Homo sapiens: one gene and its partner. The protein of the gene in region 2 purifies or fractionates together with the protein of the main gene of each other region. This does not show direct contact. Each region holds a gene or a part of one and is shown on either strand. Other genes may lie near its edges.

What was found.
Region 1: the proteins of GNPDA2 (region 2) and MYH11 purify together in Homo sapiens (affinity purification with mass spectrometry; one large-scale study listed by BioGRID and IntAct). This does not show direct contact.

Annotation. Positions count from the first base shown.
Region 1 is NC_000016.10:15,847,020-15,850,637, reverse strand, and holds part of MYH11 (myosin-11), read left to right. Parts: intron 1-3,618. UniProt on the Homo sapiens protein: Muscle contraction.
Region 2 is NC_000004.12:44,702,492-44,706,109, forward strand, and holds part of GNPDA2 (glucosamine-6-phosphate deaminase 2), read right to left. Parts: intron 652-3,618; coding exon 590-651; 3' UTR 1-589. UniProt on the Homo sapiens protein: Catalyzes the reversible conversion of alpha-D-glucosamine 6-phosphate (GlcN-6P) into beta-D-fructose 6-phosphate (Fru-6P) and ammonium ion, a regulatory reaction step in de novo uridine diphosphate-N-acetyl-alpha-D-glucosamine (UDP-GlcNAc) biosynthesis via hexosamine pathway.

The sequences.
Region 1 (3,618 bases), on a different chromosome or scaffold from region 2:
GACGTGAGCCACAGTGCTGAACCCTGCATGGTATTTAGAATATAAGCAATACTCTAACATCTGGTCTGGGTCACTCTGTATTACTTACCTGATCTCCAAAAACATTTGGGTTTTTGTCTCTGGTCCAAAATCTTTAGCCAATGGCTTGGCAGTAAAATCCTGAGGGAAGCTGTTGACCAGGTGAGGTGATGTGCAAATCCTATACTCTCTGGGCTCTGGGATATTTAATTTACTATTTATTTATTTATTTTCAAGACAGAGTTTTGCTCTTGTCGCCCAGGCTGGAGTGCAGTGATGGGATCTCAGCTCACTGCACCCTCCACCTCCTGGGTTCAAGCGATTCTCCTTCCTCAGCCTCCTGAGTAGCTGGTATTACAGGCGCCCACCACCACACCTGGCTATTTTTTGTATTTTTAGTAGAGACGGGGTTTCACCATGTTGGCCAGGCTGGTCTTGAACTACTGACCTCAGGTTATCCGCCTGCCTCGGCCTCCCGAAGTACTGGGATTACAGGCATCAGCCACCATGCCCGGCCTAATTTACTTTTTATTAATGCTGAAGCAGAGAGGGCAAGATCTTTTGCCCCTGAGTTCTTCTGGGAAAAATGAAACTGATGGTAAAACAAACTAAAGCAACCTGACATTCTCAGTTGGTCCAGTTTCAGCCCTTTGACTGGGAGTCACAGACGGGTCCCATAAAATGGTAGAGCTGGGCCAGCCTACCATTGATTTATTTTCCCTAAATGAAAAATACAAGGCCCAGAGAGGGCAAGTGACTTGTCCAGAGTCACCCAGCAGGTTTGGGGCAAAGCTGAGACTCGTTACTTGACATCCTAAGGTCTTCCAGAGGCTAATGATTAGCTTGTTTGTGCTCAAAAAATGAAGCAGCCTGGGCGCGGTGGCTCATGCTTGTAATCCTAGCACTTTGGGAGGCTGAGGCAGGCAGATCGCTTGAGCTCAGGAGTTTGAGACCAGCCTGGGCCACAAAGTGAGACCCCTGTCTCTACAAAAAAATGCAAGAATTAAAAAATTAGCTGGGTGTTCTGGTGCGTGCCTGTGATCCCAGCTACTTGGGAGGCTGAGGTGGGAGAATGGCTTGAGCCTGGGAGGCAGAGTTTGCAGAAAGCAGAGATCGCGCCACTTCACTCTAGCCTGGGCAACAGAGCCAGACCCTGTCTCAAAAAAAAAGAATGAAGCAGTTGTTGGTCAGGACAGGACTGTAAACAAGGCTGACACACTCAGATGTGTCAAACATCGCTAATGCCAAAGGTGACAGAGTCATTTGTTTTCATCCAAACATTCGAGAAAGTTGGACGAGGTGACTCACGCCTGTCATCCTAGAGCTTTGGGAAGCCAAGGCAGGAGGATCATTTGAGATCAGGAGTTTGAGACCAGCCTAGGCAAAATAGCAAGACCCCCATCTCTACAAAAAATAAGCCGGGCATAGTGGCCCACACCTGAGGTGGGAGGATCCCTTGAGCCCATGAGTTTGAGCCTGCAGTAAGCTATGATTGCACCACTGCACTCCACCCTGGGCATATAGTGAGACCCTTCCCCCAACCAAAAACATTGAGAGCAGCTCTTGATGAGTGAACTGTACTTCGTGGTCAGCAGTTCTGGGTAGTAATTTCAGAGATGTCCTTTCAGCCCTTGGAGCTGATGCAGGACCTTAAACATGAGCGATGGTGGAGGAGGGAGGGTTGGGAAGGTGCATCAAGGTAGATGAAGAGTGTCCCTGGGGTTGGGCCAACTGGCGGTCCGTCTCTGGTCCAGTGTGTTCACCTTGCCCCCGTCTGATCTTCTGCAGTTGGTATTCCGAGTTGAGTTTGACTAAGTGAGAGCTGCTCTCAGCTTTAACTGCCTTTCCCAAGACAGCCCTTGTTTTTATTCTAAAGCTGTGGTTCTCAACTGGAAGCAGTTTTGCCACCCCAGGGGACATCTAGCAGTGTCTGGAGACATTTTTGATTGTCATGAGTGGAGGAAGGGGTGCTACTGGCATCAGGTGGGCAGAGACCAGGGATGCTGCGGAACATCCCACAATGCACGGAAGAGCTCCCCTCACGACACAGAATGACGCAGCCCAAGAGTCACAGTGCAGAGTTTGTGGCCAGCTGCGGTGGCTCACGCCTGTAATCCCAGCACTTTGGGGGGCCAAGGTGGGAGGATTGCTTGAGGCCTGGAGTTCAAGACCAGCCTGGCCAATATGGTGAAACCTCATCTCTACTAAAAATACAAAAATTAGCCAGGCATGGTAGCGCATGCCTGTAGTCCCAGCTACTTGGGAGGCTGAGGCACGAGAATCACTTGAACCCAGAAACGTGGAGGTTGCAGTGAGCTGAGATTGCGTCACTGCACTCCAGCCTGGGTAACAGAGCGAGACTCTGTGTCAAAAAAAAAAAAAAAAAAAAAAGACTTAGCAACTATTATTACTAGTATTAGTATTATTAATTTGTCAGGCTCACTGAATTTTCTCAAAAATTTGGCAAATTTTTAGGAAAACATTCTCAAAACATTTGGCAAATCTGTGGCTAAATGTTGTTTTGGGGACCCAAGGCTCGTAGGAGCAAAACAGCTTTCAGGTTTCCGGATCTGCCAGAGACTCAAGTGTCCTGTTGTGTGTTTTGTGTCTCAATGAGGGAAAGGGGAATATGTAGCACCTTCCAGATGGATTTGACCTTGACTGCGCCACTGTTTGAAGAGCTTCTCAACCTCCGCAGCTCCACCCCAGCCCAGATATTTCAGGGAATTAGGGTTCCAAGGGGCATGCTATGGAAAACACCATTCTAGCATGAGTCGAAGCTTCTCATCCCCCATCTTGCTGTCTTTTGACCAAAGCAGATTTTGCACGTCGTAACTGTCAGAGACATCAAAGCCAGAGGGAATCCAGCCTGCTCCAAGCTCTCCTTTTTTGTACAGAGACTGAATCTTTGCACTTGATCTTGTTTGTGTTTTTAAGTCTGAGGTTAGACAGGGTCCCAGGCAATGGAGGCGTGCGTGTCCTTTTATTTTTCTGTTGTAGCTTTTGCTATTTTTTCTGACTTTTAAGGCAACTCATCCACATGGCAATTAGGAAGAGCCCACTTAGGGCTGGGCACAGCGGCTCATGCCTGTAATCCCAGCACTTTGGGAGACCGAGGCAGGCAGATCACTTGAGGTCAGGAGTTCAAGACCTCAGCCTGGACAACATGGTGAAACCCCGTCTCTACAAAGAATACAGGAAAATAGCTGGGCATGGTGGCAGGTGCCTGTGGTCCCAACTATTTGGGAGGCTGGGGTGGGAGGATCACTTGAGCCTGGGAGGCGGAGGTTGCCGTGAGCTGAGGTCATGCCACTGCACTCCAGCCTGGGCGACAGAGCAAGACCCTGTCTCAGAAAAAAAAAAAAAAAAAAAAGAAGTCCACTTTACTTGTCATAGTGCTTAGAACAAATGAAACACTCTCCTAGCCCTCTTGGGATGTAATTGGCTACCATCTGCACAAACTCTTCATTATTGCACAAGAATATCAATATACTTAATGCTACTGAACTGTGTTTAAGTGGCCGAGGTGGTGAATGTTAGCTGTATTTTACCACAATTAAAGATAAGAGGGAAGGAAAATGAAGTGTACTTTACAACCAA
Region 2 (3,618 bases):
TTTCCAAAAGGATGTAAACTGTACTTTTAGGCACTGTCATCTCTTCAAATTTCCTTTACCAATGATATATAGCACAATTTTTGATGTCTAGATGGTGCTGTAGGAAGATGACTAAGGCAACCACGTGCAGAAAAGCATGTGTGTGATGCACAGAAAATATAAAGATTGCATTCCAAAAGTGAAGGTCTGCAATGATAGTTTGTTATCTGAAAGGTTTGGAGTGTCTTGTCATTAAAAAATGAAATATACGCCACTGGAGTCATATCACAAATGGTGCCTGATGTGGACACTCTACCTTTAAAATGACTTTTTAAACAGGCAGACATTTCTATGCTGTTTTATAGGTGGCTATGTGACTTCAGTACTTTATAATAAATAGCCAGTCAATCTTGAGAGCCAGCTACTTCTCTTAAACCCAAGTACAAGATATAAATATTCAAAATATGGAATGTTTAACATAGAGACTCGAATGAAAAAATGACAATCTTCAAAATTCCCCATGTTTTGTCATATTGCATAGCTGAAAATTCATCTACTACTTAGTAAAAAGTGCTCTGTTCATTCAAGCTGAATTTTGCTCCAGTCTCCTTCAGTTTCCATCTTTCATACTGAATAGTGGATCCACAAGTTTATTGTGCACATGCATTAGACCTTAAAGAAAAAAAGCACAGTTCTAGTTGTTTTTATTAATTTTGAACTATCTCATTTACTTTAGACAACAAAGTATTTTTTATAAGACACAGTAAGCCTGTTTAGTTCCCATCTTGATATAGTCAAGTTTATTGAAAAAGTACAAATAGAAATGTTTCAGAATGTCTTAAGTTTTATCTACCTAGCAAATACCAATTTATAATTATGTAACAGTGCAGATCTAGAATGTGTACAGGTACTTTGGGAGTAACCAGAAGAGCATTTCTTGTCTTCAAAGAGATTAAGCATGACAAATTTGAATACTGACTTAGATAATAGGTTTTAATTATATCTAAAAGTCTATGTTGATATTGATCCTCTGGCAGTTCCTCTACTAGACTCCAGCCAGGGGCTCAGAACTGCTGTCTCACTCTTAATACATTACCCTATCCATTCGTCTGGTAAATTACTTTCCAATAGTTTGGCATGTGTATTTATGACAAAGGTTGATTACAAATTCTACACTGAGGGAGGGTTACTAAAACAAGACAGAAAACAACCTGTATTAAATCATTTAATTCAGAATAGAAATTACGATTTTAAATCCGGTAGATTATAACTTTCATTTTGTAATTGGTACATATACTTGCAGACTGCTCTTAGCTATGGAAGCTGCTTGGGAAATAGCTGATCTTCCAGTTACTCCTGTTTTAATGCCTCAGTACTATATTTCTTTGGGGAGAAAAAAGTTCTAAAAAGACTGACCCAGTTAATGAACCAGAGATTTTATATTTTGGAGGGTAAAGAAATGAGTTAAGTTTTCCAGGTATTAAGAACATGGGAGGGTGGGGAAAGGCACTTAATGCGGTTTTGCAGGAAATGGGATTACTGGATTGGAGAGATAGGTTGCTTGTTAGTAAACAGATGTTCCTTGTCAGAAAGGCTGCAAAAAGGACTCTAAAATCCCAGCTTTGAGAAAGACCCACTTTTAAGGGACAAGCAAAGAGTACTGGGAAGTGTTTGTGTAGTAGGAGAAATTCTAACCATAAGAATGGGACTCTAAAGGAGGGAAGGGGGAAGCATTCCATTCACTAGTCCTGCAACTGCTCAACAGCCTACTTGAAGGTCACCTGAAACTTCATGTCCAGTAGGAGAGGGGACAACAAAGATAAGGGTAATATCAGCTGTATGATTTAGAAGATGCAACATTTTCCAGAGTATCACTTTGTAGAGGATCGTTTTTCTACTTAAATAGTATTCATCTGTCATTTGCTAACAACTTTGATTACGGAAAGAATACACAGAGCTTTAAAATACATGCAAATTAAAATATCAGTAAATATTAAAAATTCAACTCCTTTATAAAATTTTTTTCTTTACATTGGATATATCTTTTATACATCAAATAGGACTGCTTCCAAACTAGAAATAATTATTTTGAAAATTCTATTAATTGCTTTTTAGATATTAAGTCAAATATTTACTGTGACTTTAGGTAAAAACTGACAACTTTCTACATACGAATTTTATATAAATAAATAATTGCTACTTAAGTCAAACAGAAATAATTCTTCTGATAAAAATGCACCAGACTTCCTGAAACGTTACCAGAAGAAAGGTTAAATGTCACAGATTCTAACCAATGTCTATACAAAGTAACTTTTATGGTTTTGACTCAAAATGAACTCATTCTACCTTTGTCAAACTACTGAGGTGGAGCCTAAATACAAAGTAAGAGAAAAAAATTCATGATGATGATGTCATATACTAAAAATCAAAGCTGTTCTATTTAAAAAGCAAAAATGAAAAGCGAGAATGAATAAAACAAATCCCCACGTACTAAACTTGTTGTCTTGTGATTAACTTGTATCTTTCAAAAGGTATATACCGTTATATAGGTATATATTGAAATAAACTTGCATTTACTGACAATTTTTATTGTTTTGGATCTAGTTAACCTAGATCTTATCTAGGCACTAAATAAAACCCTTTAAGATTCTGGTCAGCACTTTTTAGTGATGACAGAAGAAAGGGTAGTGATGTGAATGGAATTTGAAGAGTTATGGATGACAATTATAGGAATTTACATCCTCCAGTATTTTGATATACTAGTAACTCAATGGAGGTATGAAAAGTATACAAACTACATTTGAAATGTGTTTATTTAAGAATATTCAATTTCTCTACCCTTTACTAAAATGCTGTAAAATGAGGCCCATATGTAGCCCAGAATGTCTAAATTCTGTCTTCATATTGAAGGAGGTATCCTAACAGGCTGATACCCTGAAACCTCTTCAGAAATACAGACAGCTCCAAAGTGGAAAATACTGTGTCCTCTTGATGCAGTGCAGCTATCCTCTCACGAATGGTCTGTTTCAAAATTTTTCAGAAGAGCTTACAATTAGATGAACTAAAAGAACTAAATACATATAAACATCTACCACCCTTCTATTTTAAATTATCTAACATATGTCGATATACCTTTTTTGGAAGCAGTGATTATCATATGGGAAAAAAGCAGATGGAAATATGGTTTTGATGTAGATGGTATCATACCTAGAGTTTATTCTGGGAGGCAGTATAATAGAATAGACAAAAGCCTGCATACTCCAGAGATCAGCCTGATTTTGATTTCTATTACCCAGCTCTGCCCAAATATGTGCTGTATGACTTTGGGTAAGTAGCTTAACGTCTCTGTCTGTTAAGCCTATTAATTTAAAAATGGGACTATGAATACCCATTTCATAACATTTTTGTGATAAGTAAATCAATAAGTAAAATGCATTTAGAATAGTGCCTGGTCATAGAGATACTGGCTGTTATTAAATATCTTATTAAATATTCACCAAGATATAAAAATCTGATAAAAACCTAATTGTGACAAAATTAGATTAGTACAGGGATTTATCTGGGACTTAATGAGGACTAGAAAATGGCCATGTTAAATGAATCTCCTTAAAACTGGAATTAAAATTTGTGGATAGTGAG